Homo sapiens: one gene and its partner. The protein of the gene in region 1 purifies or fractionates together with the protein of each later gene. This does not show direct contact. Each region holds a gene or a part of one and is shown on either strand. Other genes may lie near its edges.

The links.
Region 2: the proteins of ARMH4 (region 1) and ELAPOR2 purify together in Homo sapiens (affinity purification with mass spectrometry; one large-scale study listed by BioGRID and IntAct). This does not show direct contact.

Annotation. Positions count from the first base shown.
Region 1 is NC_000014.9:58,128,090-58,131,914, reverse strand, and holds part of ARMH4 (armadillo-like helical domain-containing protein 4 isoform 1 precursor), read left to right. Parts: intron 1-193; coding exon 194-403; intron 404-3,825. UniProt on the Homo sapiens protein: May modulate immune response and may play a role in inflammation. Down-modulates STAT3 signaling throught direct interaction with IL6ST, resulting in the inhibition of phosphorylation of STAT3 at 'Tyr-705'.
Region 2 is NC_000007.14:86,940,978-86,944,802, forward strand, and holds part of ELAPOR2 (endosome/lysosome-associated apoptosis and autophagy regulator family member 2 isoform 1 precursor), read right to left. Parts: intron 1,128-3,825; coding exon 1,041-1,127; intron 409-1,040; exon of another isoform or gene 396-408; coding exon of another isoform or gene 375-395; intron 1-374. UniProt on the Homo sapiens protein: Functions as a regulator of the BMP signaling pathway and may be involved in epidermal differentiation.

The DNA of each region.
Region 1 (3,825 bases):
CATTTTCCTGAAAGTCTTTGCTTTGGGGAGTTGGATTAATACAATATGGGAAAGGAGAGCTGACCCAAGTGCCAAACTTGCTGTATTGTATGATATTGGTTTAATCATTTCTTGCCTAAAAAGTGAAAGCACATGCTTACATTTGCCATAATGATTATCTTGTGGGTCAAGTCCTGTCTGTTGTGTTTGGCAGAACAAATGGACACAGTCACAGGGCCAAATGAGGAGTTCACACCAGTTCTGGGATCTCCAGTGACACCTCCTGGAATAATGGTGGGGGAACCCAGCATTTCCCCTGCACTTCCTGCTTTGGAGGCATCCTCTGAGAGAAGAACTGTTGTTCCATCTATTACTCGTGTTAATACAGCTGCCTCATATGGCCTGGACCAACTTGAATCTGAAGGTATTCATGCTTTGAAGGGGATCTTTTCAAGGACTGGTTGAGTGAGTCACTGAGCAAATGTTTTTGAAAAAGAATTAAGTAGGAGTATATTCAATCTGCAGTATAGATCAGAGGACAGTAAACTACAGCTGGGCCAAATCTGGCCTGCCACTTGTTTTTGAATGGTTTGTAAGCTAAGAATGGTTTTTACATTTTGAAATGATTGAAAAAAAAAGTCAAAAGAAGAATAATATTTTGTGACATAGAAAAGTTATAAAAATTCAAATTCCAGTGTTCATAAATAAAGCTATATTGGAACACAGCCATACTAATTCATTTTCATATGTGTGTGGCTGCTTTTGTGCCATAGCAGCAGAATTAAGAAGCTGTGACAGAGACTCAGTGGCCCACAAAGCCTGAAACATTTATGATAGGGCCCTTTATAGAGCAAGTTTGCTGACTGTGCTATGGATCTGTGGTTCTCAACTATAGTTGACCATTAGAAATACCTTGGAGAGCTTTTGAAACATCCCAGTGCCTGAATCACTCTCCAGTGATTGAGATTAAGATGGTGGGGGGTGGAATCTGGCATCAGCATTTTAAAAGACTGCCTTAGATGATTTCAGTATTCAAGCTGGATTGAGAATACTAGGTTAAGATGGAGATGTTGAGTTTCCCCACCAGATTTTCTTGGTTGCAAGTTTTAATGTGGGGTGTATTTTAACAGCATTGCTCTGGTTGTTAATGCTGGGTTATTCTCCCTTAGTAACATCTCTGGGTTAGTCTGTGCTACTATTTGGAGATAGGCAGTCTCTTTATTTACTAAGACCAAGAAATTCATGCCAAATTGTACTTTCCAAGACATTGGCTTTGAGCATGTAAAAGAAACTTGAGGCACGGCTGCCTATCAACAAATAAGAAGACTAGAAATATGACACATAGTCACGTAATTAATCAGCATTTTGGCAGGTGAATAGTTCCTGGCTGGAGATACAAAATGTCCAGAGATTTATAGTGCAGAATTTCTTAAACTAATCTGGAACACTGGTAAGCTTTTGGGCACTCAATTAGCCATGTGTTTGCTGCAGTAAGAGACATAGGATGTGCTATTATTTTTTTTTGTCTAAAGCGAAGGGAAGGAGGTTGAGCTAGGTTTGCAGCTGACTCTGGTGCAGACTTTCTGGGTAACACTGGTTGGCTGCTGACAGAGGAACATGACATTTTAGGAGCAGTGTGGAGAATTCCACAGTAGAAGCCTGGTTTAAGAAACAGATCAAAGTGGGCTCAAAGGCTAACAGCTCTTGCATTCCACATTAAGATAAATACTGTATGACTTTGAGTTTAGCGTCTCATATAAACTGTCTGCTCTCCTTGATGCCATCTGGAAAAAGCAGGTTTCCCTAAATTAACCTGAGTTAGACATGACAGCTTTACCCAGCAGGGCTCATTAAATCAGAGAAAAAAAATATTTGTGAATAATCCATACTTGTGAAACTGCAGTAACTTTCTAAATTTAGTAGATGATGGCAGTTGTATTGAAATATGTTAGAATTTTCCGACATGCCTAAGGTGTCCTGGGGTTTTAGTTCTTTTCTTCTACACAATTCAATTTTGCTACTTTTTGATAATATATTTTGTTAGTTTTTGATCTAAATTATCCTTGTCATGGGTTACAAAAATATTTTTGGTCAAAAGATATTATTTTTGCTACATTGTCGGGCTTAGGATTTTGAATTAGCACATTTTTACTCGTAAATGCCAAGGAGTACAACTTATGTTTAATTAGTATACGTTAATAATACCATTGTTAGTTTTATGCTGGTGCTTCTAGTCCTCCAAAAGCTGAATTGACTACACTGATTTAAACAAATCAACCTACTAGACTCCTGGATGTATTGGAGGCCTCTATTTTCAATGCATGTTTTTCTACCTTGCCCGGGAATATAAGTGCAGCTTGAAGCTTTGACTGGGTGAAACATTTTAATTCTTCCATAAGCTTATGCCTAGAGGCAGGTAATTTTTTTTCTTATCTAGAACCCTGTATTACTTACGTCAGGTTAGCAGCCTTTCTTGTTTTAGTCTTTGTGATGAGTTTATATGTTATTTTAATATCTTCCTTTTTCACTAGGGGGCAGGAGCATTTCTCTGGGAAATGAGGTACTTTTCTCCATGGGATTTGGAAAGGGACATCCTTTGTTAGACATTAGACACCAAAGAAGAATGAACCTTTATGGAAATTTCTGAATCCGCAGCTCTGTTTATCCTTTAAGCGATAACTAACAGCCCAAATCAGTCTAAAAATGATGTCTACTTGCACCCTGTCTTCTTCCCTGCTTCTCACATCTCTACAACATGATGACTGAGAGGGGGTATGAGTTTTCAAGGGCTGTCATAACTAAGTACCACAAACTGGGTGGCTTAAAACAACAGAAATTTATTCTTACGCAGTCTGGAGCCTGCAAGTTGGAAGTCAAGGTATAGGCAGGGCTTGCTCTCTCCAAAGCCTCTAGGGGAGGAACCCCAGGGTTTCCTTGGCTTGAGGCAGCATGACTCCAATCTATTCACATGGCCGTCTGTGTCTCTGTGCTCAAGTTTTCCTTGCTTTTTAAGAACACCAGTCATTGGATTAGGGCCCATCCTAATGACCTCATGTTAATTATGTATGCCAAGACCCTGTTTTCAAATATGGTCACATTCACTGGTACTACCGGTCAGGACTTGAACATACCATTTTGAGGGACACAATTCAACATGTAACAGGGGTCTGCTTCTGAAGAGTTTGCCAGCTGTCTGTGAAGACAGACGTGCTACCTGAGTGATGTGAATTGGTAGAGTGGGAGAAGTTTTGGTGTGTTTTCCTTTTCTTAGTCACTGAAGAAAGCCTGCCTTGATAAGTGCCTGCCACCTTGTGCATATTTCAGTGTCTTTTATCTTGTCAGCAAAAATGCAGTTTGATTTTTGAAGGGATAATGGTTTATTTTTCACCTTGCCTGTTACATTTGATTTCTATGTATGACTTTTTTTTAGGGATAAATATTCTCACAATGATAAATGCCTTATACTCATTTCAGGCATACCTCTACGAGGGCTGTATTTAGCAGCTTTGAAATACAAACATAACAAACATGTTCTTTTTATTCAAAATGGGATAATGACAAATTTTATACATATTTTATAACTGCATAAATTAATTTTTGGACATGATCTTTGTATAGGTTGATTTTCTTCTCTTGTTGAATATTAATGTCTTTCCTGCTCTAAAATGCCAACTTAAAATTTCTGATTAGTCTTGAAAACATACCTGGAATTTATGTGGGTTAACTCTTTAAAATATTTTAGTACTAATATTTCTTACCTACTTAAAGAAGTCCCGCTTTCTGTATGTTAGAAATCTGTCTGAAGATATCTGCTTACTCTAAATAAATCAAACTTTTATTTTATTC
Region 2 (3,825 bases), on another chromosome or scaffold:
GGTATACGGATCTTAAATGTTATTAATATTATTCTCAGGTATACAGATTTTTAAAAATATTCTGAAAGGGTATGTTGTATTAATCACCCAAGGATGAGGTACCTGCTACAACCACAAAGACAAGGATTGATGGTCACTTATTGAAATAGAGCTTGATCTATATTGTAGGCACTATATTAGGCCCTTCCCACATATCTTCTGATTTAATCATGCAAGATTTTTCCTATTTTGCAAATGAAAACATCAGACACAAAGAGATTAAGCAAATTGCCTAAAGAAACACAACTATAAACCGGAGTTAGATATTAAATCCATGTCTCTCTCACTCCAAAGAGATGGTGCCTCAAATAATAACAGATTCACTGAATTGTTACCTGGTAATTGCCTTCAAGCATTTAAGGAGCTGTCCTGTAAGGAAGCAGGCAGTTACTTTACTTCATGTAACCAGAGAAGGTAGAATTTTAACCAATGTGTGGCAAATAGGTAGGAGGCAGGTTGAGGCTCCAAAGAGATATTTTGTGATAAACAGAGCTGTCCAACAAATGGAGACAGCACAGTACCCAACAAAACAAGCTTGAATATCACTTGTTGGGCACAGCGCAGAGAAAGATAAAAGGAATTCACAGATCCTTCCAATGAAAAGAGCCACTAATTCGATCACATATGACAGGCACATTTGTAAACTTAGAAACTCAAATGTTTTGTATATTAGTTTTGAACAGCCTTCTTTCTCATGGATGCCCCTTTGAAAGGGAGGAAAATTAGACTACAATGGGAAGGGGAAGGAAAAGGAAACTAAGAAGAAAGAAAAAGGTAGGAAAAAGACCCTGAAAATTGAAAGCTGAGTCCATGAAGCTAGGGGTAATTTTTTCCGTAACCAGAAATCATCTAAATTAATAGTTAATTTTGATATTTTTTCTTAAAATATACTTTTCTTAAAACGTTATGAAAGGAAGGGGAAGTTGGGAAAGAAGAAAAGGTTGGGGAAAAAAAGAAGAAGGAAAAATTGGCAAAGAAGAAGGAAATACAAAGAGACTTACAGAATGAGAGCCCCATTCTCCATTGTCTGTAAGTTTTACCCACTTGTCAGTGGTGGTGTCCATCTCCTGGCACTGATCATTTTGAATCTGTGGATTAAACACAAGAGCCCTAGTAAAGTGTCTTGAATAACAGCTTTAATTAAATTCTGTACCCAGCACAGACTGCAAGAACCTCGTTCAATACCTTCTAAACAATGGCCATGAGTAATTCTCAATAAGTAAACATACCGAGACCTCTGGAGCCTAAGTGACAACTGCATAAGACTGAGAGGTTCTAAGTAAACTATCTTCATCATTGTAACAAAAAGCCTAGCTCATTAGAGAGAGGAATGTGGGAGAACACTGACAATGCACACTAACACTGTGACTAACACTGACAATGCACAGAAAGGAGACAAAGTATAAAACAACTACCCAACTTACCCAAACTTTTTCATAGCTTGCATTCACCATGCAGGCCCAATAGTATAAAAATAAACAAAGCTGTTCTTTATAATATTTGCAGCAGTAAAATTTTAAATTAAAAATAAATAAAGTCCACTTTGTTTTCCATTCCCTAGGACTTAATCCAAATGCAAAAGTAAGTGGCTATGGCCAAAGTCAAAGTTCCAAATTTTTATTTGGGGGTAAATGGTAATCATTTGCCATGCCAATTCAAATGATTACAGATATCTTTAACACCAAACACCTTTTGCTTTCCAGGCAATTCTTCCAAAATGTCAAGGGGTTGGGACACTACTTTTCCAGGTCTACAATGAATACAGAGACATCAAAAAGTTAGGCCACCTTTCCAATATTGCAAAACAGCAACAGAGTAGAGTTAAAATAAGATCTCATCATCTATATTCCCACCAAAAGAAATGGTTCTTCCTTTCATCTCTAAATCATTTTGTTTCTTCACTCCTCTTCCCAACCAATTTACAAATATTAAAATGTTCTCCTTAAGAGCTATTCCCTAAAGACTTACTAACTAAAATATAGACCCTATTGCCATCCAAATACCAGAGAATATCAGCTACTGAGGGTACTTACTTTAATTGAATTTAAGTGTCATATTCACTTTATAAGCATAAGGACCATTTTAATGCAAGTGTTAAGCTACTTAAAAGCAGATGTGGACCCTGAATATACCTTTAATGGTCAACGTGTAGATAAACTGAAAGCTTTTTTTATCACTGAAAGCAGACGTCATATGTTATCTTGACATTCTACTGGCATTCTGGAGACCTGTAAAACCTAAGTCTAATCACTTAGTCTCTCTAGGCTTCAGCTTCATCATCATTTAAAAAAAAAAATAGAAGGGCTGAATGAAAGTTTCATATAGTTCCAAAATTAAATACTTTGTTGCTGTCAATTATGCAATGCCCATATGTACAACTCTCAGAGAACAGCATATTTCAATCTACAAACACTTTCTTTCCATTAACCATTAGTATGATGACCATGAAGTTTTGACCTTCTGAGTCAATAAATTGCAACCTCTAAAGCTGAAACATCAATAGAAGAAGGAACATGAATTTGCCATCCCTTTTCAGATTATAACCAGAACAAAGGCATCGCTGACAGGAATTAATGAAACTTTATGCCTTAAGGGTACCTTTATTGACATCTCTCAAAGAACTTATTGGGCAATACAAATCTAAACACTTATTCTCACAATTAGATAACTGCTTTGCTTCTTAACTTTATTTCAGTTTTAGCAATGTTGCCAAAAGTATCCAATGAAACAGGGAATTGTTCACTCTCAGAAGGATTTTGCAAACTAAATGCAGGTTAAACATAAATCTGTTTGAATGTTGCTTAACATTTTAAACTCATCAAAAGATATTAGTACTAGGAGACTCCTTAAAAGATATTGTCACATAATCTACTTTATAGAAGTGAATGCTTAGTGCCGGAAGGTTCACTTAATTGCTCAATAACAGTGTTAACAATTACAGAGTTGGAACTAGAGCCAGAATCTCTTGACTTCAAATCTAAAGCTCATATTTCCATGAAAAATCTCTCTTGCTACCAAACTTCTGATTTAGAAATTCCCATTTCCAACAATACAAATTTGTTTTAAAATTTTTAGTACATTTGTTTCTGAAATCTGGACTGCAGAAACATTTTTCAAGATAGTCTCCCATCTATAAGCACAACACACACTTGGTTTGGTATAAGAAGTCAATCTGAGAACATTTGCTCAAGCATTTGTGTCATGATAAATATTTGCTAGATTAGATACTGTTTATTACTAATGGTTAAGTAACTTTAGTGGTAACAGCTTATTTTGTTAGATGATTACTTTATCTTATCTTCCGTAATGTTATTTAATTTCTTTTCAAAGACATCAAGTATCCCATTCATTGATGTTTTTAGACTGTACTAAATTCACAGAATCAGAAACATGCAGCCACTTCTACTTCTGAAAAAAAATTGCTCATAAATACACTTAAATAATTTTTGTTAGCAAAAAAATACTTGAAATTGCAAAGAGAAAAAAAACTTTTAAGTGAAAACTAAAATTGGTTTAAAAAACACAGTTTTGACAGAATACTATCTGTAGCTACTAAAAGTAATGTAAACATGAATCTTGGAGGAAATATTTGTCACACAAAAAGTCTAAACCAAATGGTTATATAATGAGCATAACTAAAAGTTAACCAAGCCCAATGTTATGCTGCAAGGTGAGATCTTGGAGGTAAAGAAACAATATTAACCAGGAAACAAAATATTATAAAAAGAGATTAAAGTTTTCTTTTAACATCAAAAGGTTCAGTTAACACACACACACAAAAAAAAA